5 separate regions of the Homo sapiens genome follow, and regions 1, 2, 3 and 5 are each linked to region 4. Evidence: fine-mapped expression QTL. A gene starts in region 4. Each other region holds a variant in brackets. All regions are shown on one strand. Distances are between the middles of the regions.

Region 1 (6,259 bases), 170 kb after region 4:
GCGCCATACTATGTATCAAACTCCATTCCAGTTTGATACTATTGCAACGCTTCTCATCTTACAGGTAAAAAAAACCTGAAGTTGTGAAACATACCTGCATTTGTAGAACTCGTAGGCAGTGGAGGTATTATTTGAATACAGGTCTTGCTGCTTTTAAAATCTTCCTTCTGAACCACTACAGAACTTACAAAAAAAGCTTGGGCAAGCCAAATAAGTTGCATAATTAATTCTGTGTGTGTGTGTGTGTGTGTGTGTGTGTATGCATGCATGTTATGGAGAATCCAGGACAACCACTTCAGAAAGGGGCTGGGCTGAGTGGGGGATTAAATTATCCAAGGGGCCACCTCTATTTCTCCTCCATCATGTTTATACCAACATCCTGTGTCAGGGAGCCCAAATATTTTCTCAAGGCCCCCAGTGTTTGCCCCGTGCCTCTTCTTACCCCCTACCCTGTGAAATGCCGGGAGAAGAGGGTAGGATGGAAAGTGTGAGCTTACATTCCAGGAGCCTATCAAAGGCCCTCCTCTACTAACCTCTCTACTATGCAGAAGTACTTTGGAAGCCATTTACATCCATGGGGAACAGGTGCTACTATACCTCCTGCCTTGCCATGCCCACAGAGCGAGCCCAGGAATAAGTAATTTCCAAGCTGTTACCTGGAAGTCCTGAAAAGGAGCACCTGCTTCCAACTCTCTTTTCTCCCAGCTTGACATCAGGCCTGAAATCCTACCTTAGAGATTCAGTTCTTGAAGATAAAGGCTAGCTGTTTCTTAACATACACACACCTGTCTATCAACTGATGAATGGATAAACAAAAAGTATAGTATCCATACAACAGAATACTATTCAGCCATAAAGAGAAATAAGGTACTATTACATAATACGCTAGGCTGACACTTGAAAACATTATGCTAAGTGAAAGAAGCCAGCCGTATTGTGCGAAAGGCCACATATTGTATGATGCTATTTACATAAAATATCCAGCGCAGGCAAGTCCATAGAAACAGAAGACAGATTAGTGGTTGCCAGAGACTGGAAGGAAGGGGAATGAAGAGTGACTCCTTAATGGGTACAGGATTTCCTTTGGGGACAGTGAAAAAGTTCTGGAACTAGATAGTAATGGTTACACTGCATTGTGAATGTACTTAATGGCACTGAATTGTACACTTCAAAATAGTTACAATGGCAAATTTTTTGTATATCTTACCACGCACACACACACAAATGTATATACTCTTGTTTGAAATCATTGCTGTTGAAAACAAGCATAGGCTTCAGCTTTGGAAAGATCCACTGTGAGACCTCGAGCAAGTTACTGAGCTCTCCACTCCCTCATCTGTAAAATGGGGGTAGCAGTTGTTGTGAGGATTAAATGGGATAATACATGTGAAGTGTTTAGTGTATTGTCCTACGCAATAAATGTTAGCTTCTGTTAGCATTAGTCCTCAACAGTCCTTTTAACCTCAGTGTAAATTCCTCCCTGAAAGCAGTGTTTGATGAGACTGTGTTAAAATCTTCTGGAGTTAGAGCCACCATGAGAACACAGGATGCTCAGTGGGCAAATGGGACCTCCTTTCAGGCAGATTCTAATTGGAAACGCTGTTCACGCCACAAAGAAACAGTACATGAACCCAACCAGAGGTTACGGGACAGGGAAGAGAGGAGAAAGCTTGATATGGGTTGGAGTGTTGAGGGTTTATTCAAAGCCCATGGGGAGAAATTAGGATACAGATGGAAAATAGTATTTTAGTTAACAGAAAGTGGAAAGATTCCATTCCAGAACTCCTGTCCTGGGCCAGAACCCTTTAAAAGCTCTTGACTCTGAAACAGGTGTCAGGCCAGCTCTCAGGGAAAGCCAAAGGGGCAGGTGGAAGGCAAGAGAGAGGAGGGAGGGTGGCTTTCCACACCCTGGCAGTGTGACATCACCACTACCAACAGGAGACAGCTCAGTGCAGACACTGCCAAACCGGGTGCTTGATATTGGTGGTGGCCCCATCTAAGTTTATTCTCTCAGATCCCCCCACCTTCCCTTTCCTCTAAATGTGAAACAAAAGAAACTAAATGCCTTGATGGTAAATGCATAGTCATCATCCTTTTTAAAATTAAAGTATCAAAACATAAACTTGGCTACATAAAACAATTTTTAATGCATTTGTGATAGACCTTCATTTACACTTACCATACACATCAAGTTTTCTTGCCATAGCCACCATCCGCCCCCAACTTCCTTCCTCTCTAATCCATTGTTGTTCCTGGCAGCTTACAAATTGTCTTGCGTTTCATAATGGCTGGTGGCTGGTGCCTCTACCCATAACTAGAAGGTAAATGCAAGGGATGTTTTCCCCTCCACCAAGAAAAGGAACATAAATTATCCCCTGAAAGAAGTGCTGAATGGTATTAACATCAGATGGCTCTTGATGGATTAGGAAAGACCCCTGATGTGCAATTCAGAGAGTAAAATGAAGACACCTGTGTCTTAAGTGATCATTTAAAGGAAACATACATGAGGTCAAAGAAGTAGGCACAGAATTCATGTGTACGAATCTGACATTTAACGAAGACATTCTTCTCTGAAGAATGGCACCAGCGGCGAGTGGCCAGTTTTTATGTCTAGCCTGTGAATGTTATAGAGAAGCACAAAAAGCAAGGGGGCCTGGCTCTCTTGCAGGCCAAAGGAATCATACGCCCTGGAAATTCCAGGAAATTCAGTGGAATGTCTTTCTTTGAATTATCACACCCATGCTGTCTAAAATGGTTCTTTCTTCCTCCGGTACCCCTTCCCATTCTTTTCTGATATGTATTTGCAACAATGAGACACACGTTTAGACATGAAACAGATGTAACTCAAGTGAGTAACTCTCTGAGACGAGTTCTGTGGCAGAATGTTAGGGGTCAAAGGTTCAAGCTGAACAACAGGTGTATGTTTTAGGTGTTTGTACATTCAGAGAAAATAATTAAGGTATCTAGCAATTCAGTTGTACATCAAAATTCTAAACACCAAACTGTTGATCTAAAGGATATATTTGGTGCCATGTTTCAGGGTTTGTCAATGAAAAATTGAGCATCAGGTGCCCAAGA[C/G]TGAGGAACAGGACTGAAAGCCAACTATCCCATCTAGTGATGCCCCAAAGAGCAAAGGATGACATCTGGAGAAGTTTAAAGCTAGGCACCCCCCATAATGGGGAGGGAAAGGCAGGGAATCGCTAGGTCTCAGCAACCGACAGATTTAAATGAACAGAAACCAGCACAACACATGTTTACCATGTCTTGGTTCCAATATTTATTATTCTGACAGGTTAGGAATACTAGGATAAATAAGTAATATTTTCTCTTACAGAAAATTGTAATGATACCATTGAGTACAATTAAACACTCTGAGAATTTCACAGAAACATCAGAATTTTAATAGACAGTAGCCAGCGTCCTTGTGGCCAGTGTGAGTGACTTCTCACAGCTGCAAACACCCTGGGCCAGATTTCTTAAAACAGCTACATGACAAAAACAATGCTATTGACATCCAATAATGCTAAAGCCTGGGTACCACCCAGGCTCCACTGACTGTGGTTTCCAAACATCTCTCCACTGACTGTGGTTTTCAACCACAAGGAAAGGAAAATGGAATATTCTTTGGCTCTTCCAGCCTAGACACAACTCCTGACCTAAGACATTGAGTGGAGAGTCCTAACCCTTTGGAAGTTGAACTTTCTGCTTTCTTCCTGTGACTTTGGAACTGAGTTTGCAACAGAGGACCTGCCATCATACTGCCCATGGATTTTGTGTTAACGCTGGGAGAATTCTGTCCTCCTCTTGCTGACAAGCTCTTCTGGCCACCTGAATATCTTGAGATACTGCACGTGGTGACAGCCCCGCCCCCCAAAACTCTTAGAAACCAGATCTGAGAAAAAGCATATAAAAGTCACATCAGTGTTGTGTGACACAAACATCGGAAGAGTACATTGCCTAGTTTTCTTGCACACACAATTTCTGGACATAACAGCATATTTGCTAGAAAGCACAACCCTGGCCGTTGCACAACTTCACTAAATGCTGTTCTCACTCCACATCCCCTACGAGTGACAATGGTAGCCACGGTGAAGGAGATGGCCCCATCCCTCCCACCCGAGGTACAGACACTGCTGCCTGAATCCTAACGGTGGGCATCCTGGTTTTTTGTAGAATCCAGATGAAAGGCGGGCAGGACACCAGCTGGGGGCCATCTGGAACATAAGAATGGCCAGTGTGTTAAGGCCTAAATCCTGGAGTTGAGGCAAAGATGCACTTGCCCTGGTCCAAGACCCACTCTGGGGCAGAATGGGAAGGGCCTGCTGAATCACTGCAGGCCCTCCCGCCTTGATGGTTCTCTGCTGCTGGGATTCTAGAGGTACACAGGAAGACAGCTCTCCAATGGCTTCAGGGTTTTGGGTATAAAATGAGGATTCAATGAGGACTCCCCAGTCGCCCCCATACCACGACTGCTTAGCTCTGCAATGTTCCTTCTTTTATCTGTTGGATAAAGAGGTTTCTCTCATCTTCTGGAGTCCTCCCATTCTGAGCCCGGACAATACACGTGGGCCGATGAAGGTTGAGCATGTATATCAAATGCTGCTTCTCGTTCTTGAGCTCCTCAATCTGAGCCTTCAGTTCAGCATTCACACTTTCCAGCTTCTCCGACTCCTGGGGGACAAGCAACAGAGGCATCAAGAAAGGAGCCAAGGGCCAGTGAGGAGGGGGTGGCCTGGGCTGCTGCCTGGATGCAGGGGTGTACCTGGGACACACCGGGGCTCATCAAGCTGCGAGAGGAAGATGGGAGATGGGAGAGCAGCACTGGGTTTAGGAAAATGCAGACCCTCTTCTTCAGAGAAACCCTGGTGATGCCACAGAGGCGGCCTGTGGCTCTGCTAATACTGAAGCTGCAGTTCAGATACCTCATTTGCATGAGTCAACAGCCCATATGCAGGTCTTCTGGACCCAAAAGGGCCTTGGGAGCTGGGGAGAAATCCAGACTTATGGTGGCTTAGTCGATTCTGAGTCACAGATCTCAATGAGAAGCTCATCTCCCCAGAAAAAATGTATATAGCAACACACAAAATTCCCTAATTTTCACTGATCCCCTGAAGCAATCAACAGAACTTTTGGGGATCTGTGGGACTTGGGCTAAGACTCTGTCATGGCCTGTCCACATTTGGAGGAGGGACACAGCCACTGGAAAGACTGCTGAGCACCACCGGCCACCCTGCTTGCCCACAAAAGCTATTTCCCCTAGTGTCTCTCAGGCGGGCCGGCTGAACGCAGCCAGGGGCTCAGCTTACTGGCTAAGCCAGGGAGAAGGGCTCTAGAGTTAGGAACCAGACAAGAATGCAAAGCAAGTGTAACCACTGCTTGTGGATTAAGGAAATAACTTGTTTGAAGAGATTAATTAAAGGCTTTTCATAGTGAGCCAAATGAGAGCTGGCAGCTTCCTTTTCTCAGGAAAACAGTCAAGTGAAGCCTCTTTAACTGGGCTGGCATGTCCTGCAGCCTGGAAGCTGATGGACATGTATGAACCGGCCGAGGCTGCTGGGAGTCAGGCATCAGACGAATTCACACACCTGTTTTTATACATCCACCGTCACATCCATTGTGTTAACTGCTTTGCCACCTCCTCATTCTGCAACTGGCATTTCTGCTACCAGCTACAAGGCCCTTCTTGGGAAACTATAACCAAGTAGGGGGTTTTCTAACTCTTCTTCTGATAGCCACATGAAGCTGGTGAAGACAGGCGTGAGCGAGAGGAAGGGTAAGGCTAGAAGGCACTCACTTTCTGCAGGCACTCCGTCTTCTCCTTCTTCTTGTTTCGGCACTTTGCAGCTGCAATCTTATTTCTTTCTCGTCGCCTCTTTTTCCTTTCATCTTCTTCAGGGGCTACCTGTAAAATCCAAAAGAAACACATTTAAAGGGCAGTAAGAAATGCCACCTACCTCAAATACACTGCCTTTTACTGCCAGCAAAAGCTGGCAGACAAGGGCAATGCTAGCGCTAAAAGACCCCGAAATACTAAAGCTCTAGACTTTTGTGTGAAAACCCCTACACACACACACACACACACGCACACACACACACGTGAGTGAACAACAAAAATCAAAGTTAAAATTATACCGGCAATATATTAGTAAATTAAAAGTTAGCCAATTTTAAAAATGCATTTGGATTTTGAGATGAGGATAATATGCAAATTGATAACTATTGGTATTAACTATAATCATTTAAAGCCGAAACAGATTCT
Region 2 (6,259 bases), 110 kb before region 4:
AGTGCTGGGATTACAGGTGTGAGCCACAGCACCCGGCCGATGAATACTTTCAAAGGGCTCATGGTACAGTTGAGGCAGTGAGGTAATGCACATAAATAACAGAAGAAAACCATTCAAGGAATCTACCTTATGAATAAGAGTACCAAGTATTGAATAACGTTGCAAAGAATGAGTTTATTGCTGTGTATAGCCTCTCCAGGGACATCTTTTTAAATTCTGAGCTCCTGATGACACAATAGAAAGCTCTGGCCATGGACAAATTCTGCCCTAGCTGGAATGACCCAGATCTTGTCCGTCTTGGTTTGGGGTCAAAGTATGTTTTGAAGGATTCAGCCTTTTCACTGAAAAAGAAAGCACTGTCAGTCCTATTTCAGCCTCATTTTAATTTTTATGCATTATGAAACTTTATAAAAATCTAATTTATCATTTTATCTCAGGGAGTTTGGGGCCAGTTCATCCCTGGAAGAATCAAATGTTTTCCTCATTATGGGAATGAGAGGTATGCTCAAGCAGCATTTGTCAACCGAAACCTATGGGCTCCAACCAGAAATCAAGTTTCCACTGGTTTCCGCCAGGTTGTTCTCTTTACAGTTACCATTTCGCCCACGGGTTAAAATAATCAAGATAAAGGGAAAAGTGCAAATGGGTACATATAACAAGATAAAACAAAGGCTTAATACGTCACTTGTCGAAATGGAAAATGAGGCTCATATGTCTTATTTTAATGAGTCCTTTCTAAATTTCTCTCCTGTGCCGTCCTTTTCTCCTTTCTCAAGGCTATAGGGCCTCCAAGCCCCATCTCCTCCTCCCTCCTATTCAAACCTGCTTGCAGGACAGCCATCAGACTTAAGATGAGATATTCCCTCTTGGTAGTCTGGTGTGCTTTGAAACCTTCTCTCTCTTTAGGGACCCAAAAATATCGTATCTCCGGTGAAAGGTCATAAAGGCATCTTCCAGGCATGGGATCCTGTCAAGGGCCCTGAAATTACTTCAGGGCGGGATGTCACCTATTAGTTTGACCAACTCTTCCTGCAGAAAGTGAGGGGCAGTGTGGTGAGGACAAGAAGCTGACACTAACAGGTGGCTTACAGGAAAGAGGTGACTTCAGAAATGTGTTACTTACCTAGATTTCTTCGCCTGCTATTGAAAATAAAGAGTATCTTTTTTTCTGGATGGAAGTAGTTTTTCCCACTGAAAATCTAAATGTAAATTTTAGTGATTCTGAATGGGATCTGAGAAAGGTCTTAGATTTTAAAGTTCCTATTTCTTATAGGGTAGCCGGTAACAGATAAAATGCCATGTTATTATTTTATATTTTAAACAGTTTCATGGCTTTTGCCTCAAATATTTAGCTGTTTGTAAAACTAAATAATGCTGGAAACTTTATCCTGAAATATCATACTAATTATAATTTAAATGGCATGACAACAGATGGTAGTAGCAGCTTTTTATAACTCTTCGTTTACACAGAGGTAGTATCTTGCTTTGCAGCTACCAATTCTCTTCTCTTTGGTCTCATTAATAAAACCACCCTAAATCTTCTGCCTGTCTTTCCCTTAGGCTCCTTCTTTGTCTCCACTAACTCTTTATGTTCCACCTACCTCCTTTAATTAGAGGCCTTTGATCCTTGATCCTCCCTTACTCTTTATTCTCTCCATATTCTGGCATTGTGAATCATTGATCAATGTAGTGATAGCCAGTTTCTCCTTTCTAGAAGCAAGACCCTTTTCAGGGAATCCATAATGTCCAAACTCTTTTCATAATAATACAAAGAAGTTATATACCTTTTTCACTATGTTGACATTTGCAATGATGGTGCAAAAGTGGTGGCGGGCAAAATTGCTGTTCTACGCTAAAAGTTTAGTCCCACTTGTTTATGTTTGCTTTTGCTGTCTCTGTTTTTGGTGTCATATTAAAAAAAAATCATTGCTCATCAATGCCTATGTTTCCTCCTTACATTTTATGATTTCAGGTCTTATATTTAAGTCTTTGTTGTTGTTGTTGTTGTTATTGAGATAAGGTCTCATTCTGTCACTCAGGCTGGAGTGCAGTGGTGCAATCTCGGCTTACTGCAGCTTCAACCTCCTGGGCTCATGAGATTCTTCCAACTCAGCTTTCCTGAGTAGCTGAGACCACAGGCGTGTGCCACCATACCTGGCTAATTTTTAAATTTTTTTTGGTAGAGGCGAGGTCTTACTATGTTGCCCAAGCTGTCCTCAAACTCCTAACTCAAGTGATCCTTCCACCACGGCCTCCCAAAGTGCTGGGATTACAGGCATGAGCCACCACACCTGCCCTGTCTTTAATCCATTTGAGTTGATGTTTGTGTATGATGTAAGATAAGAATCCAATTTCATTTTTTTTTTTTTTTTGCATGTGGTTATCCAGGTTTCCCAACAGTATCTATTGAAGACTATCCCTTCCACATTGTGTATTCTTGTCACAGATTAATTGACAGTGTATGTATGAGTTTATTTCTGGGCTTTCTGTTCCATTGGCCTAGTTTGTTTTTATGAGAGTATCATGCCGTTTTGATTACAGTAACTTTGTAATATAATTTGAAATCAGGAAGTGTGATACAACTTTGATCTTTCTCAAGTTTGCTTTAGCTATTCAAGTTCTCTTGAGGTTCCACACAAATTTTAAGATTGTTCTATTTTTATGAAAAATGCGATTGGAATTTTGAGAGAAATTGTGTTTAATCTTAAGGTTGCTTTGGGTAGTTGGACATTTTGACAATATTGATTCTTCTGATCCATGTACTTGGGATATCTTCCCATTAATTTGTCTTCAATTTCTTGCATCAATGCATTATAGTTTTCATTGTACAGATTTTTCACCTCCTTGATTAAACTTATTTCTGAGTACTTTATTCTTTTTGATCTTATTGTAAATGAAATTTTTTGCTTAGTTTTTCAGATAGTTCATTAGTATATAGAAATGCAACTGTTTTCATATGTTGATTTTGTATCCAGCAACTTTCCTGAATTTATTTTTAAATGTTTTTTCATAGAATCTCTAGAGATTTTTATACATAAGATCATGTTATCTGCACACAATTTTAATTCTTCCTTTCAGGTCTGGATGCCTTTTATTTCTTTTTCTTATCTAATTACTCATGTTAGAACTTCCAGTCCTACTAAATAGAAGTGGTAAGAGTGGACCTCCTTGCCTTGTTCTGGATCTTAGAGGAAGAGATTTCAGCTTTTTCACCATTGAGTATAATGTTAGCTGTGGGCTTTTCATAAATGATCTTTATTGTGTTGAGGTTAAGCTCCTTCTATGTCTTTTTTTTTTTTTGAGGTTTTATCATGAAAGGGTGTTGAATTTTGTCAAATACTTTTTCTGCATCTATTGAGGTGACTATATAATTTTTACCCTTATAGTATATCACATTTATTGAATTGTATATGTTGAACCATCCTTATATCCC[T/A]GGGATAAATCCCATTTGATCATAGTGTATGATCCTTTTAATGTGTTGTTAAATTTGGTTTGCTAGTATTTTGTGGAGGATCAGGGATACTGGCCTGTAATTTTATTTTCTATAATGTCCTTGACTGGTTTTGGTATCAGGGTAATGCTGACAATTAGTTTGGAAGTGTTCGTCCTCTGAAATTTTATGGAACACTTTAAGAAGGACTAGTATTATTTTCTTTGAATGTGTGGTAGAATTCACCAGTGAAGCCACTGGGACTTTGGTTTTTCTTCTACGGACAATTTTTGATTACTGATACAATCTACTTACTTGTTATTGGTATACTCAGATTTTCTATCTCTTCATGACTCAGTCTTGGTAGGTTGTATGTTTATAGAAATTTATCAATTTCTAGGTTATCCAGTTTGTTGAAGTACAATTGTTCATAATAGTCTCATGATTCTTTGTATTTCTGTGGTATCAGTTGTAATATCTCCTCTTTCATTTACAATTTCATTTGAGACTTCTCTTTTTCTTACTCTAAGGTTCATCAATTTTGTTTTTCTTTTCAAAAAATACAACTCCTAGTTTCACTGATCTTTTCTATTATTTTTCTAGTCTATATTTCATTTATTTCTGTTCTCATCTTTGTCATTTACTTCCTTCTACTAATTTTGGGCTTAATTTGTTCTTCTTTGTCTAGTTCCTTCAGGTGTAAAGTTAGGTGATTTATTTAAGATATTTCTTCATGTGGCCATTTATTGTTATAATTTCCCTCCTTGAACTGTTTTTGCTGCATTCCATCAGTTTTGATATGGTAATGGAAATAGAAAGTATTTCTATTTTCATTTGTCCCAAAATATTTTTTGATTTCCTGTTTGATTTCTTCGACTCACTAGTTGTTCAGAATCTGTTGTTTAATTTCTACATATTTTTGAATTTTCCAGTTTTCTTTCTATTGGTGGGTAATTTCATATCATTGTGAAATAATATGTAATTGTGTAATTTCCTATCATTGTAAGCATCAGAGAAGTTGCTTAATATGATATTATGTCTTAAGGAATATATGATTATTTCAATTGTATTTCTTATTTAAATGTATTTTAAAGACATTCTTTTGGGCCTAACATATGACCCATCCTGGAGAATGTTCCATGTGTACTTGAGGAAAATGTGTACTCTGTTGCTATTGGATGGAATATTCAATATATGTCCATTAAGTCCATGTGGTCTAAGGTGTAATTCAAATCCAATGTTTCCTTATTGATTTTGGCTGGATGTTCTATCAATTGTTGCAAGTGGGGTACTGAAATCCCCTATTAATTCTACTGCTATTTCTCCTTTCAGATCTGTTAATATTTGCTTTGCATAATTTTAGGTAGTCCACTGTTGGCACACACACACACATGCACACACAACTTGTTGGATCCTCTTAAATAATTGACCCCATTAAGGCCAGGCACAGTGGCTCATGTCTGTAATCCCAGCACTTTGGGAGGCCAAGGTGGGCGGATCATGAGGTCAGGAGATCGAGACCATCCTGGCCAATGTGGTGAAACCCCGTCTCTACTAAAATACAAAAAATTAGCTGGCCATGGTGGTGCAGGCCTATAGTACTGGCTACTTGGGAGGCTGAGGCAGGGGGAATTGCTTGAACCTGGGAGGCGGAGGTTGCAGTGAGCCGAGATCACACCACTGCACTCCAGCCTGGCGACAGAGCGAGACTCTGTCTCAAAAAAAAAAAAAAAAAAAATTGACTCCATTATCATTATATAATAGTCTTCTTTGTCCCTTGTTAAAGTTTTTTAGGTGTTTTTTTTGTTTGTTTTTTGACAAGAGTCTCACTCTGTTGGCCAGGCTGGAGTGCAGTTGCACGATCTCAGCTCACTGCAACCTCTGTTTCCCAGGCTCAAGCGATTCTCCTGCCTCAGCCTCCTGAGTAACTGGGATTACAGGCGTCTGCCACCACGCCCAGCTAATTTTTGTATTTTTAGTAGAGATGGGGTTTCACCATATTGGTCAGGCTGGTCTCGAACTCCTGACCTCAGGTAACCCACCTGCCTTGGCCTCCCAAAGTGCTGGGATTACAGGCGTGAGCCACCATGCCTGGCCAAAGTTTTTACTTAAAGTCCATTTTGTCTGATTTAAATATAGCTACCCTGGCCAGGTGCAGTGGCTCACAACTGTAATCCCAACATTTGGGAGGCCAAGGCAGGCAGATCACCTGAGGTCAGGCATTCAGGACCAGCCTGGCCAACACAGTGAAACTCCATTTCCTAAAAATACAAAAATTAGATGGGTGTGGTGGTGCACACCTGTAATCCCCACTACTTGGGAGGATGAAGCATGAGAATCACAAGAACCCAGGAGGTGGAGGTTGCAGTGAGCTGAGATCATGCCACTACACTCCAGCCTGGGTGGAGTGAGACTCTGTCTCAAAAATAAATAAATAAATAAAGCTACCCTGCTCTATTTCTGTTTCCATTTGTATGGATTCTCTCTTTCCATCCCTTTACGGCCTATGTATATCTTTAAAGCTAAAGTGACTCTGGTAAGCAGCATACAGTTTGGTTTTTAAATCCATTTAGCCAATCTATGTCTATGATTGGATAATTTAACCCATTTACATTTAAAGTAATTATTGACAGGTAAGAACTTACAGGCATTTTGTTGTTTTCTGGCGGTTTTAAAGATCCTTTGTCCTTTTCTTCCTCTCTTGCTGTCTTTTGTGATTAGATGATTTTCCTTAGTAGTATACTTAGATCCCTTTCTCTTTATCTGTGTGTGTCTACTACGGGTTTCTGCTTTGTGGTTAAAACAGGCTTACATAAAACATCTTATTGT
Region 3 (6,239 bases), 19 kb before region 4:
GGTTTTGAAGCTATTTCTGGAGCAAGTGTCGGAGCTTAGGAAACAGTTTTAATGCATTCTGTGTCGTCACTTCTATAACTTCTTCCACTGAGATCCCTTTCACCTGGGCAATATATTCTGCTGAAATAGAAATGTTCCAGGGCTCATTCCGTACCTGAAACAAGACAGCAGACACCATGTCAAACATGACACTGAAGGGAAGCAGATCCTTGGAGACTATAGATAGAAGAAAATGAGTTGGTAAAAACAACTGATGGGCTCCTTTTTAATTTTTTTCTTTTTAGGTGGGGATGAGGGCTGGGAGGGAGGTGTGGCTGCAATGTTGATTGTAAATCTGTGCTGCTCCTGAAAAGAACCCTGGGGTATTTACAATTGAAGTCCCTAGCTCCTAGCACATGAAGCAGTCTGCAAACAGTGAACACCTGGTAACCTGCCTGACTAATGGATTAATTGTCCTTTGGTTTGTTGCTTAGGTGAATGCTTGTAAAAGGTCACTGCTCTGCTGCTTGGCCGCCTACCTCACAGGCTACATGACAGTTTGATTCAAGAATTGCCAACATGTATTGGAAAGATGAAATAGATTATGTACTGGCATTTCACTGATTCTAAGATGCATTTCCTCTCCTATTTTAACATCTCTGAAATTGATACAGTATATTTCATTTAGATTCAGTGGTATTTCATAGTATAACTGGCAGTGTTTTTTCTTTCTTAATGGTCATAAAACAATGGTAAACAATGGTGCCTCTACAATCAGTAGCATTTAGATTTTATGAAATAAATTATTATTGTTACTATCAATAAGTATCTACTCAGGATGATAATGTTCAGAAGAATAACATTATTGTTAAAATTTTTAAAATGCACTTTGGTAATGTAGCCCAAAAAAATTAAAAATGGGCATAGAGATTTATGTTAATCATGTTGTTTATAATACAATCTAGATGACCAATAGCAAGTTAAATATGGTAAACTCACATACTGGAATATTATGCAGTTATTAAACATGATGAAGAAAAGTATGTTTATTAATATATACAGAGGTTCAGCCAGGTGCAGTGGCTTACACCTGTAATCTTAGCACTTAGGAAGGCCGAGGTGGGAGGATCACTTGAGCTTAGGAGTTTGAGACCAGCCTGGGCAACATAGTGAGACCTTGTCTCTATTAAAAAAAAAATTAACAAAAAAAATATATATACAGAGGTTTACCACATAAAGATCAGTTATAAAATAATATGTCCAAGTTAATCCTGTTTTTATGAAATATATGTGCACTAAAAATACAAAAATCAGCCGGGCGTGGTGGCACAAGCCTGTAATCCCAGCTACTAGGGAGGCTGAGGCAGGAGAATTGCTTGAATCCAGAAGGCGGAAGTTGCAGTGAGCTGAGATTGCGCCACTGCACTCCAGCCTGGGCGACAGAGCAAGACTCTGTCTCAAAAACAAAACAAAAACAAAAACAAAAACAAGTAGCCAGGCATGGTAGCACATGCCTGATGGAGAATCATCTGAACCCAGAAAGTCGAGGTTGCTGTGATCACGCCACTGCACTATAGCTTGGGTGACAGAGTAGACCCTGTCTCAAAAAAAAAAAAAAAAAGAAAAGAAAGAAAATAAAAATAGAAACATTAATTGAACATCAGTTAGTAAAATTCACATTGCAATCACATATAATCATAGTTTCTGAATAAACGGATAATAATTGCTACTGTTCCCAAACCTCTAAATTTTGAGTGCCAATTCTCTGAATTTGGCAGGCATAGAGACACAGATCTGATGGGTAGTCAAAGGCACTTATTAAACTGCACATTGGGAGGTCATTGTAATAGGTACTGCCTAAAGCAAATAAAGCATATACTGTGGCTTACTTTCAGAAAATTATAATTTAAAATAGTAGCAATATGAAAGAGAGTGAAATTTAAAATATGATTCTTTGTGGCCTACAATAACAAAAAGAGATACTAACAGCAAAGATCATATAAATAAACCCATGATTATATCAATACTTGTATTGAAAGAAATAGAACTTCATTATAACATGCTAATTAAAAGAAGAAAAATGAACACTCATTGAATACCTACTGTATACCAGATACTGCTAGTTACGTTCACATACGTTACTTCATGTAATACTTA[C/T]CATAATCTTTTCTTTTTTTTTTGAGATGGAGTTTTGCTCTTGTTGCCCAGGCTGGGGTGCAATGGTGCAATCTCGGCTCACTGCAACCTCCACCTCCCGGGTTCAAGCGATTCTCCTGCCTCAGCCTCCCGAGTAGCTGCGATTACAGGCGCATGTGCCACCACGCCCAGCTAATTTTTTTGTATTTTTAGTAGAGACAGGGTTTCTCCATGTTAGTCAAGCTGGTCTCGAACTCCTGACCTCAGGTGATCTGCCCGCCTTGGCCTCCCAGAGTGCTGGGATTACAGGTGTGAGCCACCGTGCCCAGCCCACCATAATCTTTTAATGTATTTATTATTTTACCCATATTTTATAAATGAAAAAGCAGTTTCAGAGAGATTAAGTAGCTTGCCCAAAGTCAGCTACTAGGTAGATAACAGGATTTGAATTTGTCTTTCTGACTGCAGACACTGTGCTTTTTACTACACTGGTCTGACTCTTATTATTACATACATTAGGACATGCTTCATTATCAAATAATATTCTCTGGAGTGCAACAGCTATATTTAGAAAGACCTGAAATAAAGTTAATATAAGCCCTCAATCTGGCAGTATATGAGGATTCCACTGTATTTACACTATAATGAGAAATACAGCTAAATTGAAAAGAACTCAAATGAAAGATACAATCTAAATAATATAGAAATTAGAAAACCATTTACCTGTTTTTCTGGTCCTAGTGCAGGTGAATCTGTTTCTAAGCATATAGAAGTTAAAGGCAATTGTTTCACAAGTTTCTGCTTCTTAGAGAAAAGAGAAAGCAGCTAAGTTTAAAACATGAGAAATAAAGATAAAGAGCATTAAATTGACATACTAATAATGCATTTTATTCTGCAATAACTTAAAATTTATGCTTTAGGCTGGGCGCGGTGGCTCACGCCTGTAATCCCAGCACTTTGGGAGGCCGAGGCGGGTGGATCACGAGGTCAGGAGTTCAAGACCAGCCTGACCAACATGGTGAAACCCCGTCTCTGCTAAAAATACAAAAATTGCCAGGCACAGTGGCTCATGCTTGTAATCCCAGCACTTTGGGAGGCCGAGGCAGACAGAACATAAGGTCAGGAGTTCAAGACTAGCCTGGCCAACATGGTGAAACCCCATCTCTACTGAAAATACAAAAATTAGCCAGGCATGGTGGCAGGCACCTGTAATCCCAGCTACTCAGGAGGCTGAGGAAGAAGAATCACTTGAACCCGGGAGGTGGAGGTTGCAGTGAGCCGAGATCACCCCACTGTACTCCAGACTGGGCAGCAGAGCAAGACTCCATCTCAAAAAAAAAATAATAATAATAATAAAATAAAAATACAAATACAAAAATTAGCCAGGCAAGGTTGCAGTGAGCCGAGATCACGCCACTGTACTCCAGACTGGGCAACAGAGCGAGACTCCGCCTCAAAAAAAAATTATTTTTTACTATTCAACTGATAGGCCGGTTGTGGTAGCTCGCGCCTGTAATCCCAGTACTTTGGGAGGCTGAGGTGGGTGGGTCACTTGAGACCAGGAGTTCGAGACCAGCCTGGGCAACATGATAAAACCCCATCTCTACTGAGAATACAAAAATTAAGCCGGGGTGGTGGCTCATACCTGTCCAGCACTTTGGGAGGCCAAGGCAGGCTGATCACTTGAGATTGGAAGTTCGAGACCAGCCTGACCAACATGGTGAAACCCCGTCTCTACTAAAAATACAAAAATTAGCCGGGCGTAGTGGTGGCTGCCTGTAATCCCAGCTACTCGGGAGGTTGAGGCAGAATCACTTGAACCCGGGAGGCAGAGGTTGCAGTGAGCTGAGATCGCGCCACTGCACTCCAGCCTAGCCAGAGTGGAAAAAAAAAATACAAAAATTAGCCAGGCATTGTGGTACACGCCTGTAATCCCAGGTACTCGGAAGGCTGAGGCAGGAGAATTGCTTGGACCTGGGAGGCGGAGATTGCAGTGAGACAAGATCACATCACTGCACCCCAGCCTGGGCGACAGAGTGAGACTCTGCTTCAAAAAAACAATTCAATTGATAAATGCTAACTGGATGTTCTCATAATTCCACTACTAAAAGTTATGTTAAAATATAAACACTAATTCCTAAAAATTATCCAAAGCTTCTAGGGAAACCAAAGAATAGTAACCATAGCAAAAATGAGGTATACCCAGCAAGCAGAAATCCAAACATCTGGTATCATGTGCCGACATTGACAAGGAAGTGATTTCTGTTGTTTCTCCACCCTCATCACATTCAGTGTTTCTTTCTAACATCCACTTTAAGGCACTCAAAGCTTTATGTTTATAAATCTAAGGGTTTTGTTTGTTTTTGAGACACAGTCTGGCTCTGTCACTCATGTTGGAGTGGAGTGGCACGTACTCGGCTCACTGGACCCTCCATCTCCTGGGCTGAAGACATCCTCCCACCTCAGCCTCCCAAGTAGTTGGGACTATAGGCACACACCACCACACTCGGCTAATTTTTTTTTTTTTTTTTTTTTTTTTTGAGACAGAGTCTCGCTCTGTCACCCAGGCTGGCGTGCAGTGGCGCGATCTCGGCTCACTGCAAGCTCCGCCTCCCGGGTTCACGCCATTCTCCTGCCTCAGCCTCCCAAGTAGCTGGGACTACAGGCGCCCACCACCATGCCCGGCTAATTTTTTGTATTTTTAGTAGAGACGGGGTTTCACCATGTGAGCCAGGATGGTCTTGATCTCCTGACCACGTCGTGATCCACCCGCCTTGGCCTCCCAAAGTGCTGGGATTACATGCGTGAGCCACCGCGCCCTGCCTTCACTCGGCTAATTTTTATATGTTTTGTAGAGACAGGGTTTCGCCATATTGCCTAGGCTGTTCTCAAATTCTTGAGCTCAGGTGATCCGCAACCCTTGGCCTCCCAAAGTGCTGAGGTCACAGATATGAGCCTCCGTGCCTGGCCCAAATCTAAGGTTCTTATGCAATTTAAATTTTATTTTTTTATTAATTAATGTATTTATTTTTGAGATGGAGTCTCTGTCGCCCAGGCTGGAGTGCAGAAGCGCGATCTCAGCTCACTGCAACATCTGCCTCCTGGGTTCAAGTGATTCTCCTGCCTCAGCCTCCTGAGTAGCTGGGATTATAGGCATGCGCCACCACACCCAGCTAATTTTTGTATTTTTAGTAGAGAAGGGGTCTCACCATGTTGGCCAGGCTGGTTTTGAACTCCTAACCTCAGGTGAACTGCCTGCTTTGACCTCCGAAAGTGCTGGGATTACAGGTGTGAGCCACAGTGCCTAGCCCAATTTAAATTTTAGATTGGGTTGTGGATGGTTTTCTTTTTTCTTTTTTTTTTTTTTGAGACGGAGTCTCGCTCTGTCACCCAGGCTGGAGTGCAGTGGCGCGATCTCGGCTCACTGCAGGCTCTGCCCCCCCGGGTTCACGCCATTCTCCTGCCTCAGTCTCCCGAGTAGGTGGGACTACAGGCGCCCACCACCATGCCTGGCTAATTTTTTGTATTTTTAGTAGTGACGGGGCTTCCCCGTGTTAGCCAGGATGGTCTCGATCTCCTGACCTCGTGATCTGCCCGCCTCGGCCTCCCAAAGTGCTGGGATTACAGGCATAAGCCACTGCGCCCGGCCTAGTTTTTAATTTTTAAAGCTATAATTCACATAACCATAATATTCACTCTTTAAAAGTACACAATCCAGTGTTTTTTGCTATATTCACAAAATTGTACAATCATCACCATTATCTAGTTCTGGAATATTTTCATCACTCCAAAAAGAAATCCCATACCCATTAGCTGTCACTCCCTATTATCCTTCCCCTCAAAATTCTGGAAACCACTAATCTATATTGTGTTTATAGATCTGCCTCACCTGGACATTTCACATGAATGGAATAATACAAGATGTGGTTTTTCGTCTGGTTGCTTTCTCTTAGTATAATGTTTTCAAGGTTCATCCATGCTGTAGCATGACTCAGTACTTCATTTCTTTTCATGACTTTATTCCTCTTCATTCCTTTTTATGACTTTATATTCCATTATATGGATATAGCACATTTTATTTATCCATTCATCAGCTGACGGAAATCTAGGTTGTTTCTACTTTT
Region 4 (6,207 bases):
CATGGTAGCTATAGGAACATGTTTTGAATTCAGACTAACTTGTCTCTATCAGTTCACTAGCATGTGTCTTTGGACCAGTTACTCATCTCTAGGCCTTAGATTCCTCATCTATAAAAATGGGGAATGATTGGCTATAAATTAGTAATTTCCTCAGAAGGCTATTGTGAAACATTGAATGAGGTAAAGTCGAGAAAGGCCTTAGCTCACTACCTGGCATGTAGCAAACACTTAATAAATGCTACTTAGGCTGGGAGCAGTGCCGCATGCCTATAATCCCAGCATTTTGGGAGCCCAAGGTGGGTAGATTGCTTGAGCTCAGAAGTTTGACACCAGCCTGGGCAATATAGTCAGATCTTGTCTCTATTTTAATTATAAATAATAAAAATTGGCTGGTCGTAGTGGGTCACGCCTGCAATCTCAGCACTTTGGGAGGTCGAGGTGGGCAGATCACCTCAGGTCAGGAGTTCAAGACCAGCCTGGCCAACATGGTGAAACCCTGTCTCTACTAAAAATACAAAAATTATCTGGGTGCAGTGACGTGTGCCTATAGTCCCAGCTACTCAGGAGGCTGAGGCAGGAGAATCACTTGAACCTTGGAGGCAGAGGTTGCAGTGAGCTAAGATCACACGACTGCACTCCAGCCTGGGCGACAGAGCGAGACTCTGTCTCAATAAATAAATAAATAAATAAATAAAATAATAAAAATAAAAAATGCTACTTACTATAAACTACTGAAACATCAAGGTAGTATATCTAAATTTCAAGCTGTTTTGGCTTGAAATGATAGTTAAAATAAAAAACCAAAAGAGCAATTACAAATATTGACTTACCTTCTTGGCTTTCTCCAACACATCATCCAAATCCTAAAACAAGCATAAGAAATCACCATTATTTTAGATGAATAAGCAGCTAATCTTGGACTGTATATGTCAATGTAGTTGTGGCATCACAAAAAATAACAATGATAGCAACTAATGGAGTGGTGGAAAACAAAGAGCCTACACTGACCCACTTCCTGTTTACTCTTACTATCAGTAAAGTCTGGCTACTGTTCCCAGCACTAAAACAGAAGCCTCTATTGTCAAATATACAGGGTATTTCTCTGTCCTCATCTTACTCTACTCCTCAGCAGCATTCGGAATCCCTCACTTGCTTACTCCTTCCTTCTTGAAATGCTTTCCACCCTTCACTTCTGCAATACCACTCTCTCATTGGTGGCTACTTGTCAGTCTCCTTGACTAGCTCCCCTTCCTCTTTCAGACTTCAAGAACATCTGCTCCTCTCTCTGCACTTGCCTTGAGTGATTTCACTTCCTCTCATGGTTTTATCATCATTATGCTGAGGCCCCCATTTTTTTTCTTTTTTTTGAGATGAAGTTTCACTCTTGTCTCCCAGCTGTAGTGCAATGGTGCGATCTCGGCTCATTGCCACCTCTGCCACCCGGGTTCAAGTGATTCTCCTGCTTCAGCCTCCAGAGTAGCTGGGATTACAGGTGACCGCCACCACACTCAGCTAAATTTTGTATTTTTAGTAGAGATGGTGTTTCACCATGTTGGCCAAGCTGGTCTTTAACTCCTGATCTCAGGTGACCCACCCACCTTGGCCTCCCAAAGTGCTGGGACTACAGGTGTGAGCCATCGAACCCAGCCTGAGTCCCCAATTTTTTTTTTTTTTTTTGAGATGGAGTCTCGCTCTGTCACCCAGGCTGGAGTGCAGTGTCACGATCTCGGCTCACTGCAAGCTCCGCCTCCCGGGTTCACACCATTCTCCTGCCTCAGCCTCCCAAGTAGCTGGGACTACAGGCACATGCTGCCATGCCCAGCTAATTTTTTTGTACTTTTAGTAGCGACAGGGTTTCACCATGTTAGCCAGGATGGTCTCGATCTCCTAACCTTATGATCTGCCCACCTCGGCCTCCCAAAGTGCTGAGATTACAGGCATGAGCCACTGCGCCCGGCCCCCAATTTTTATCTTTAGCTTGTAATTCTCTCCTGAGCCCATGACTCATGTTTAAAAATTATGACATCTTCATTTGGATGGGATTAGGTTTCCCAATATGCCCCAAACATAAATCTTTATTTTCTCCCCACAAACCTATTCCTTCTGCTGACCTCCCCACCTCCACCTCAGACCTTGGTCTTCCCTTATCTCAGTAAACCAGCACCACCATCTTCCCTATAGCACAAGCTAATAATCTGAGTCATCCTTGACTCCTCCCTTTCCCTTGCTATCCACATCCAATTCTTCAGTACTTACTGTGGATTCTCTCTCTAAAATGTATCTTGAATCCATGTATTCATCTCAAACTCACCTGCTATCATCATAGTACCAACAGCCAACATCTCTTGCCTATATACTGCAAAAGCCTCCTAACTAGTCTTGTAGCTTCCACTCTTCTCCTCCACCCATTTGCCATACAGCAGCAAAATGGTGTTAAAATGGATAGCATCATGCCTATCCATTTTTGTGTAATCCCAGGACTTTGGGAGGCCAAGGAGGGTTGATCACTTGAGGCCAGAAGTTCAAGACCAGCCTGGACAACATGGCAAAACTCTGTCTCTATTAAAAATACAAAAAATTAGCCAGGCGTGGTGGGACACACCTGTGATCCCAGCTACTTGGGAGGCTGAGACAGGAGAATTTTTTGAGCCCAGGAGGTGGAGGTTGCAATGACCTGAGATCATGCTATTGCATTTCAGCCTGAGGGACACAGCCAGACTCAATCTAAAAAAATAAAAAAATGAAAATAAATTTTAAAAAAGCCCTTTAATGAATCTGCATTGTGCTTCAAATGCAATCCAAATTCCTTACTGACCCACCTCATCTATCCCCTGCAAACCTCCCCAGTTTTGTTTCATGCCTTTCTCTTTCTAGCTCATCAGGCTCCACTTAGCTTTTTGGCAACTGAAATGTGCCAAATTCTAGCTTGTCTGGGGGCCTGCAACCTATCTGTTTCCCTAACCAGCATACACTCACCCCCTTGCTTGGGTGGCTCCTTGTCTTTTCAGCCTTAAGTGTCAGCTCCTGGGAGGATTTCCCCCTGAAATAAAACCCCCCTTAATCCTCTATTATTAGTCTCTAGTTTCCCACGTAATGGGTAAAACAGTTTGTAACTGATTTTACGTGTGTATTATTATTTTAATTGAGACGGGGTCTCACCACATTGCCCAGGCTGGTCTCAAACTCCTGGGCTCAAGCGATCCACCCACTTCGGCCTCTCATAGTGCTAGGATTACAAGTGTGAGCAACCACACTCGGCCATGTATTTTTGTTTGTTTGTTTGCCTCTCTCCCCCATTTGTGAATTTTTTTTTTTTTTTTTTTTTGAGACAGGGTCTCACTGTTACCCAGGCTGGAGTGCAGTGGCTTGATGTCAGCTCACTGCAACCTCCACCTCCTGGGCTCCAGCGATTCTCCCACCTCAGCCTCCCGAGTAGCTGGGACCACAGGCAAACGCCACAATCACCGGCTTTTTTTTTTTTTTTGTAGGGACGAGGTTTCACCATGTTGCCCAGGCTGGTCACGATCTCCTGGACACAGGAGATGCGCAGCGCCCGCCTCGGCCTCCCAAAGTGCTGGGATTACGGGCGTGAGCCCGCGCCCGACCTCTCCCCGATTTGAACGCGTTTCGAGGACCGCTTCCCACAAAGAGTGGCATCTCAGCCAGGAGGTGAGAGCCCCGAGGGGAAAAACAGGCCAGCCAAGGGGAGTGAGGGAACGATTCCAGGAACTCAGAAGAGCAAACAAAAGCCTTGTGGAGATAGCTTACCGCTACTGAATCAGGAAAAAAAAATCGGTATGTCTGAGGTTAAATAGGGAATAGGGAAATGAGGGGCAAGGTCATATGGCCATAAACAAGGGTCTGGGCGGGGGATATGGGGTTTCGTCCCAAGGGAGGAGAGCAAAGATAACACGAGGGGAAAGGACGGGGGCCTCCCTGCTCCCTCTGGTCCCGTATCGCCCTCACATACGCGGTCAAAGTCCGGGGCGGAGAGGTGGCAGTGACAGTCCACCAAGCCTACGCCAGCCGCTCGCATTGCGCCCCGGCGGCTGCCGCTTTAGACCGGCCAGCAGAGCCGGAGCCGGAACGTTTCAGCTGCAGCGTCCTGAGTTTCCAGCCGGATGCATGCTGGTTACACCAGTGTGAACCCGCTTTTCCGCTCCCAGAGTGCCCCGCCCACAGTTCCGACGAAAAATGGCGGGGTCTCCTGAGTTGGTGGTCCTTGACCCTCCATGGGACAAGGAGCTCGCGGCTGGCACAGAGAGCCAGGCCTTGGTCTCCGCCACTCCCCGAGAAGACTTTCGGGTGCGCTGCACCTCGAAGCGGGCTGTGACCGAAATGCTACAACTGTGCGGCCGCTTCGTGCAAAAGCTCGGGGACGCTCTGCCGGAGGAGATTCGGGAGCCCGCTCTGCGAGATGCGCAGTGGGTACGGGACCAGTTAGCCAGTTCTTTACTCATCATCCTCTTACCCAACACCCAGGATCTTAGGATTCAGAAAGATCCCACGCCAGGCCTTGGCAGAATTAACGGTGCCCCAGGCTACTGTAGAACCAGTTCGAGAAACGCTAGAGGAGAAAGAAATAGATGCTAATGTCAGCTGGGTCTTATTAATTACTTAGACCAGCGCTGTCCAGTGAAAATACAAGGCAAGCTAATCTTTATGTAGTTTTAAACTAAAAGTAAGAAATAGGTGAAGTTAATGGAAATAAGACATTTTGTTTAACCCAATAAATCCAAGGTATTTTAACATGTAATAATATCAAATGAATGAGATATTTTACATTCTTTTGTTCGTACTAAGCTTTTCAAATCTGGTGTGCTGCATTTACGGCACATCTTCGAACTAGTTACATTTAAGCGCTCAGTAACTACAAAGTGGCTAGTGGCTCACCTGTTGGACAATGCAGCCGCAGACAATGAGGAATTCTCCTGGAAAGGGTAATTCTGGAAGTCAGCCATTCACCCAAGCAGCATTTGATCTTTCCTTTTGCATGTTTTATTTATTTATTTATTTTATTTTATTTTTTTTTTTTGAGACAGAGTCTCGCTCTGTCGCCCAGGCTGGAGTGCAGTGGCGCGATCTCGGCTCACTGCAAGCTCCGCCTCCTGGGTTCACGCCATTCTCCTGCCTCAGCCTCCTGAGTAGCTGGGACTCCAGGCGCCTGCCACCACGCCCGGCTAATTTTTTTGTGTTTTTAGTAGAGACAGGGTTTCACCGTGTTAGCCAGCATGGTCTCGATCTCCTGACCTCGTGATCCGCCCGCCTTGGGCTCCCAAAGTGCTGGTATTACAGGCGTGAGCCACCTCGCCCGGCCTATTAACCTTTATTTTTACTGTTTGCACTGTGGTCATTCATAACTCACAAATGTGCGGTATTATGAGCTTTTAAATTTTTTCCGCTAATATAAGTAGATTGGTGCCTGTTATAAGGAAGCACACAATCCCTTTATTTCTTGTGTTCCCAAAAAACTACCACCTTCAGGGCTTTGCAAAAATATTTAAGAAAGGCTTGGGAAATGTGGTATAGAGGCAAATGTATGATCTTAGTAAAGTTTTCAACCAACACAATTTTTTTTAACCTATTTTAGTCTTGTAAAGAAAATGTTTTCACTCTAAAACAGGCAAAAGGGGTCGGGCGCGGTGGCTCACGCCTGTAATCCCAGCACTTTGGGAGGCCGAGGCGGGCGGATCACGAGGTCAGGAGATCGAGACCATCCTGGCTAACATGGTGAAACCCCGTCTCTACTAAAACAATAATAATAATAATACAAAAAATTAGCCGGCCATGGTGGCAGGCACCTGTAGTCCCAGCTACTCGGGAGGCTGAGGCAGGAGAATGGCGTGAACCCGGGAGGCGGAGCTTGCAGTGAGCCCAGATCTCGCCACTGCACTCCAGCCTGGGTGACAGAGCGAGACTCCATCTCAAAAAAAAAAGGTTCAGTGGAAGAATGAAGAAACACTTCCTGGGTTGTGACTCTGTATGTAGTTTTGTATATAGTGACTCTTACGTCATTCCCTCCTTGCAAGCAAGGCAAGAATAGGGATATATCTCAGGACGTTTTTAGTAGTTTTTTGGGAGAAGACTTTTGTTGTATAATCTTAGAATTTGTCTGATTCTAGGAAATGCTAAGGTATTTAAAACATTTAGGTGTCTTACAGAAAAAGAGGAACTTGGCTTAACCTATTATATCCTATTTAGTGGGAC
Region 5 (6,259 bases), 710 kb before region 4:
AAGGCCTCCCCACCCCACACAAATAAGGGCTTATATAGTATAGGGAAAGTCTGGAAAACAGCATCAATAATGGTAGAATACGGTTAAGTAAAAGAATTGGACATGACAAACTGCGGCTCCTACGAATTCAGGGAGGATCTGGGTAGAGTCAAACAGTGAAATGGTTTCCTAGAGAAAACAGGACTTGAACTGGAGACCGTGAGTGCAGGATCAAACTAGACTCACAGAGCCACTAAACCCCATTAAAGAGACAGGCACAGAATAATTGGCAGCCACAATTTATATTGCTCAGTAACTGCAAAACCAAGGAGTTATTTTTACAACTAGCCCGTTATAGCCTATGATTTGGCCAATAAACCCTGCCTGGAGTTTCACAATATGAAGTTAGGGGGTATAGAGTATACCTCCATGGAAACTCTATCAGTGTTTTATCAACAACAAAAACAAACTACACAGTACTTAACCTCCATCAGATGAGCTTAAATGACAAAGATAAAAGTGGATCTAACTTTTGGATAAAAGAAGTCAGGCATTTGGGGACACTGAAGGGCTTACTGGAAGTACTCCGGATCTGGTGATTGGTACCAGGAATTACAAGTACATAATGGAGGAAAACTTATTTAAGGACAGGCACAGGTAATGCCTGGGGCTTAGGAGACAACAGAGCATGCAATTGAAGCAGGCCCCTACTTTGGCTGCTGTGCATTACATGAAAAGGCACAATGATGCTCTTCCACCATCCCCTCAGCAATTAGTCCTCCAGTAAATGAATTAGCACCCTATTGTAGGTAGGAACCCAAGAAGTTGTTAGAAAACAGGCAATCAAAGATACTGGAGACAGAGCTGTGAGAATCAGTCTGCCCAGATGGGAAAGAGACCAGATATCTTGCTGTTTGATAAATGTATAAACTTACTGACATTCATCTTCATTCAATGAAAAAGAAATTCAGAGCATGTGCTTCAATAAAAGAGATACATCTATGGACATAATAAAAGAGATAAAAATGGCTGCAAGAATCACAGGATACTGGTATAAAAACTGGTTATCTAACACACGAAAATTATTTTCATATGCTAGCATTAAAGTTTGTGTCTGCTGCAGGGGAGAACATTATAAAATGTATTAATGAAGGTACTGCTTACCCTTTGATACCTAAGAATTGGCATTTCTTGGTTCAATTCTACATGTGTACATTCCAAGAGTCATTATTTGACTCTGTTGACTGAGCCCAAGTCGCTGCTAAGAAATTAAAGTTATGTGAAGTGTAAAGACTTCGCATTTGTTCAACAGACACCCTCTAGGTAAGCCTTGAAGAAATTAAATCCCATACAAAAACAGGTTGCCAGCTAGGAGTCAGGGAAGCCTTTTCATTACAGAATAATTATTTTGAAAATTGAACGACCATTTACTAATTTAATATGTACAAATGAATTTCCGCTTATAGTATTTTATAAAAGTGGAATTTATTTGCCTTTCTGGATTCTAATTCTTAGAAGAAAAAAAAAAAGGATCAACTCTCTTTCTTTAAAGATAAAGCAATGACCAACCTCAAAAGACAGGTAAAGACAGAACCCCCAAGGGGCTAGTTTTTCATTCTCCTTCCTTGCCTTAATACCCAGATTTGGTCTTTAGCCATGTGATTTTAGGGTGATCGTATGTACTGGCTTGCCCAGGACAGTGCTGGTTTACATCTGATGTCCCAGCATAATTATTAAATACACCTTACTACCAAAATGTCCCAAATTGTGTGATAAATTACATGGTCACCCTACATATTATAGATTCTAAAGAACTGGAATTTGTTGTATTTCAAAATCAATTAGAAGGCAGTATTTTGGACATCATGACATCACCTCCAAGGATGAGGCACAGCTTTTTTACAACCCACCTGGGAGGTTCTACTATGTACTCAAGCCACTATCCATGAATTCACCGAGTTAGAAGTTCTAATCTCAAGTCAAGATCCTGCCATTGCCCTTTTCTCTCCAGCATCCACCTGCTAAACACAGTAGATACCATTTGCAGATTAGCAACTGAGACCAATCAACAACAATTTATTGAGCCCCCAAAAGACACACCTCAGGTTAACATGAAAACCCTGGTGGTGTCAATCATTTGACCAGATAATGATTCCTCACTATTTACAAAACTACTGTACTTAAAATATTGTCTTCCTGGGTTATATGTGGAAATTGAGGCTTAAGAAAAAAAGGAAAAACTTATTGGGAGCATAGCCTAGAAGCAAATTCAAGCTCTGCCCAGCAACCATCACCCACAAACTCCAGTCCCAACACACACACATACACACACACACACAAACCCCTTACTGGTGATGGCAGAGAACTTTCAAAAGCAACACAGCTTCATTTTACAAATGTCCTATTTTCTGGCTCTCCACTTTTTTCTGTGCTGAATTGGTAATGGAGCTAATAAAGGTTCAAGATGCTCTTTCTGGGGGCCAAATTTTTCTTTTCTCCATGTCATGCTTTTTATTCAGAAAATCATTTTCTTTGCATTGTTTTCACAAAAGCCTTCCAACACCCCCAAATAATGCAGAGAAATTGGCTTTCATTTTGAACAGGCTTTTTCAATGCACACTGTATCTCTCAGCATATCTATTATATTAATCCAAGCCTTAATGATACAATGGGTAAAAACAGTGTACGGATGTGTATCAATGAAAAATTTAATAGATTTCCCTCTTAATGTAATAGAATTGGCATGAGGCATTGGGAACAGGAGTGAAAGTAGTCACTCAAGCATTGTGTTTACATGATATTTAAATACAAGTGGCTGGGGTATAAGTACCGCTAAGTACACCTGAAAGGGATGGTGCCTCCTAATCATTGTTTCAGCAATTGACAGTTGTTTACACAACAGCAGCACATTCGCTGCTGATTTGAATAATAAACATGCTTAAATACCAGCTGGATAATAGAAGGATAATTGAAACATAGTTTAAAGCTCTGATTTACAGGCATTGTAGCAACACTTTTATTTGCTGTACAATGCTGCACTTCTGTGCAGTTTCTGAAAAAAGAATTTAAGGCATTGTTTCAGACACTGGGGTCTATTAAACTTGATTAATACACTCAGCATATGTATCCATAGCTCAAGCCATGCCTGGGCAT[A/C]CTTGAGACAGCTATTGTGCAATGTGTTTGATCAAAACACTCAATGCTGTAATAGAACCATTCCGGAGGCCCGCAATGCAGTGTGTCCACCAGGGCTCTGAGCGGTGGATGGGACCACAGGCACCTGATAAGTTTCATGCTTCACAGGTTAAAAAAAAAAAAAAAAATGAGAGGGTTGACCTGAATCATCTCAGACTGTATAAAGTTATGCTGCTAAACTATCTCCAATTTGCGCCACTTTCTTTGCATCTGTCCTTTTCCTTCTTTCCATGCCTCTTGCTACCACCTGAGTTCAGGCCAGTTTTACCTCTACCCAGGTCAACTGCAAGAGGCCTAACCTGGGCATCTGCTCCCAGGGTCTCTCTATTTCAGCCCCCCACCCTGCGCTGCCAACACAATGGTCCCTTTTCAGGTAGGAGTGCCAGAGCCAGGCAGGTTGCGTGCTCAGGTTGGCCCTGCGGGTTGGTAGTACCTGGCAAGTGTTAGCTGCCACTCGAGTCCTCAAATGTGGGGATCCTAAAATGTGACTGAACCTGTTCACTTGGAATAGGTTGTACTTGTGGAAGTTACTCATGTAACCAAATTAGCAGGAGCCTAATTTGCCAACCAGAATGCTGATACGTTCATTGATTTATCAATTTACTAGGGGAGATACATCTTACAGAATCATTCACATTGGTCATTCAGAACACTCTCTCCTGGAATAATTGCCTCAGAGGAGCAAATTATGTGTCAGAAAGTTGCTTAATGAACATAAAGTAAGAGCAAAAGGAATGGGATGAATTGCCACTTTCCACTCCAGGGAAAATGCTGCCTAAAAGTAATAGCACTCAGGCACCAAGCCAGACATCTATTATCACTAATTCTTTTAAAATCCCCCAGGAATTATTATTCCTTTTTAAATATAAGGGACTGATCTAAGGCCACAATGTCGTTGAGTTATAGCATCAAAACCACATAACTAGCTAGCTAATTAAGAATCATCATATTGATGGTCAAGAATAATTACCAGACATTGATACATTGATATTCAGATCTCCCTCCATCTCTGTCTCTTTCTCTATCTCCTGGATTGACTGGGTTGAGTAAAAACAGAGAGGCGTTTATATTCTCACTCCTTTTTTAGTGACTCACATGCACAAGTCATAGGGGTCATCTTCCACCCTCTGCTAGACCTGGTGGGTGACCCATAGATGTTGAATGAGTAACTGAGTGAAAAGTTAAATGAACTTTCAATGATTGTTATTTAATGTCAAACCTGTCTTTCTGAGAATACAGTCTGATACTTAGTGAGAGAGTTTGGACAATCATGGCATCTCCAATCTATTAAAACATGGTGTTGCTTCTGCAAATAACTAATCTCATCTGGTATGGGTGTCGCCCTAAAATTTAGTTTCCATCACAACCACATCCTGAAATTTTAAAGACCATTATCAGCATTCTTCCATGCACAAAATCCATCTCCTTCATCTCGTTACTTACCAATTCAAAACCAGGTACAAAAGTAGGAGACTCATTTTCAGAAGAAAGGACAGCAATGCCAAGAGTCTATACTGTAGTACAAGATGGTCCCCATCAAGCATGGCACCATCTTGCCCTCAGAGCCCCTTCTGAGAGAATTTACCCCAGTCACAGTTACTGTTGAAGTAGCAACTCTCTACCCCACTCTGGCTCCAGCTGGATAGAAGTGTGGGCACCTGATCCAAGGACAACAAACAAATGCAGATGACAGCCAATAAGCTACAGGATGGCCTGACACAAAACAGAAACTGAGTCTCTCTCTCTCACTCTCTCTCCCTTTAAGAAAAATCAGGCACTTGATAGTGAAGCCAGAGACAGAAAACATGCATAAAGAGAGAAGCCATGAAGTAGATAAGGACCACGAATGATCAAAACAAGTCACAGTTAGATAGAAGGCAGGAAATATGAGGTAGAGAAACCAAAACAACTGTAGAGTGAAGTGGTCAAGAGCATGAACCCAGGCTCTTGAACCCTGCCCAGGTCTGAACCCCAGCCTGTCCTTTTCCTAGCAGTGTTACCTTGGGCTGGTTCCTCCACCTCTAACAGCATCTGGCCCATGGTAAATGCTGTGTACATGCTGGCATGTTAGATATTGCTGTTGAGCACTTACGATGTGTCAGCCAGTGTGCTCAATCTGTTATATGTGTTAACTCAATCCTCACAACAAAAACCTGAAGTTCTGTTATTATCCCCATTTTCCACATCAGAAAACAGAGGCACAGAGAGATTAAGCAGCTTGCCCAAGGTCATATAGCTGGCACGTGGTAGGGCTGGGATTCGAATCCAGACAATCTGGCCCTAAGGCAGCACAGGCACCATCAAAGAGAGGTTGTGTGTCCTATGATAGGGAAATAACACATTCAAGAGGTCCTTTGGCCAGAGATTCAGTTCTAACACACAAGAATCCTCAGACCTACCCACCTCCCTCTGCCCACGGTAGTCTGGGTGGTTCTTTTTTTCTCCCTGAAACTGAAAGAGCCTGACTATAGCTGGAATCAGTCCTGAATTGGAGAGAGTGAGGTGCATTCATGGAACATAGAATAGGATCTCAGGGGATACTTGGGGTAAGTGGAAGTGGATATCGTACAGTGACAGGGTGAAGGGAAACGAAGCCCCACAGGCTAGGTAAGTGACAAACACTGGGCTTTCATTGATAGACTCCAGTGACCCAGATCTTGGGTCCCATAGATGGGGGTTGTGGGGAACTTAGTGGCTTTGGCCCTAACTCTGATTCATAGGATTAGGAATGAGGTAAACATCACAAAGCAGATGGATGCTATGCATCATATCAGACAAGTTACAATGGGAAAAGGGCACCTCCCCTCCTTTCCTAAATAAGAAATTTTATGTTAGATACTCATTTTTGCAGATCTCTAAAGATTATTAGAAGATTCTAGAAGCTTCCAGAGAGAGGGGAAAAAAACAAGTTGCCCACAAAGAAATAAGAATAAAACTGGCATCAAATTTTCCAAAAGCAACACTAAATGATACAAAATAATAGAAAAGATAATACTTTTCAAAATTCTGAGGGAAATTGAATTTAATACCCAGTTAAACTGTTAAGTAAGTGTTACATTTTCAGATGTGCAGACTCTAAAAGTTTATC

Evidence for each region.
Region 1: its variant is fine-mapped to the expression of TATDN3 in whole blood (TOPMed, PIP 0.92).
Region 2: its variant is fine-mapped to the expression of TATDN3 in whole blood (TOPMed, PIP 0.97).
Region 3: its variant is fine-mapped to the expression of TATDN3 in whole blood (TOPMed, PIP above 0.99). The same link has a PIP of 0.9 or more in anterior cingulate cortex, atrial appendage, cerebral cortex, esophagus mucosa, fibroblasts and left ventricle.
Region 5: its variant is fine-mapped to the expression of TATDN3 in coronary artery (GTEx, PIP above 0.99).

What each region holds. Positions count from the first base shown.
Region 1 is chr1:212,617,770-212,624,028 of GRCh38, reverse strand. It overlaps ATF3 (activating transcription factor 3), which reads right to left. Exons shown (of 4, transcript NM_001674.4): 3 at 5,795-5,902; 4 at 3,254-4,671. The coding sequence ends at 4,474. Among named protein-coding and RNA genes, the nearest start is that of GARIN4, 3.6 kb to the left of the region's middle. RefSeq lists a silencer at 2,108-2,402. The variant C/G (reference allele first, on the strand shown) is at 3,079.
Region 2 is chr1:212,902,014-212,908,272 of GRCh38, reverse strand. No RefSeq gene overlaps it. Among named protein-coding and RNA genes, the nearest start is that of VASH2, 45 kb to the left of the region's middle. RefSeq lists an enhancer at 1-94. The variant T/A (reference allele first, on the strand shown) is at 3,434.
Region 3 is chr1:212,808,928-212,815,166 of GRCh38, reverse strand. TATDN3 (TatD DNase domain containing 3) reads right to left here. Exons shown (of 10, transcript NM_001042552.3): 9 at 2,839-2,919; 10 at 1-154. The coding sequence ends at 11. Among named protein-coding and RNA genes, the nearest start is that of TATDN3, 20 kb to the right of the region's middle. The variant C/T (reference allele first, on the strand shown) is at 2,137.
Region 4 is chr1:212,789,751-212,795,957 of GRCh38, reverse strand. TATDN3 (TatD DNase domain containing 3) reads right to left here and starts at 4,064. Exons shown (of 10, transcript NM_001042552.3): 1 at 3,971-4,064; 2 at 831-863. The coding sequence starts at 4,036. It overlaps NSL1 (NSL1 component of MIS12 kinetochore complex), which reads left to right and starts at 4,181. Exons shown (of 6, transcript NM_015471.4): 1 at 4,181-4,428. The coding sequence starts at 4,195. RefSeq lists enhancers at 1,003-1,052, 1,393-1,462, 1,341-1,841, 3,976-4,255, 4,730-5,508.
Region 5 is chr1:213,504,590-213,510,848 of GRCh38, reverse strand. It overlaps a transcript of RPS6KC1 not described here. Among named protein-coding and RNA genes, the nearest start is that of LINC00538, 420 kb to the left of the region's middle. RefSeq lists an enhancer at 2,288-3,286. The variant A/C (reference allele first, on the strand shown) is at 3,133.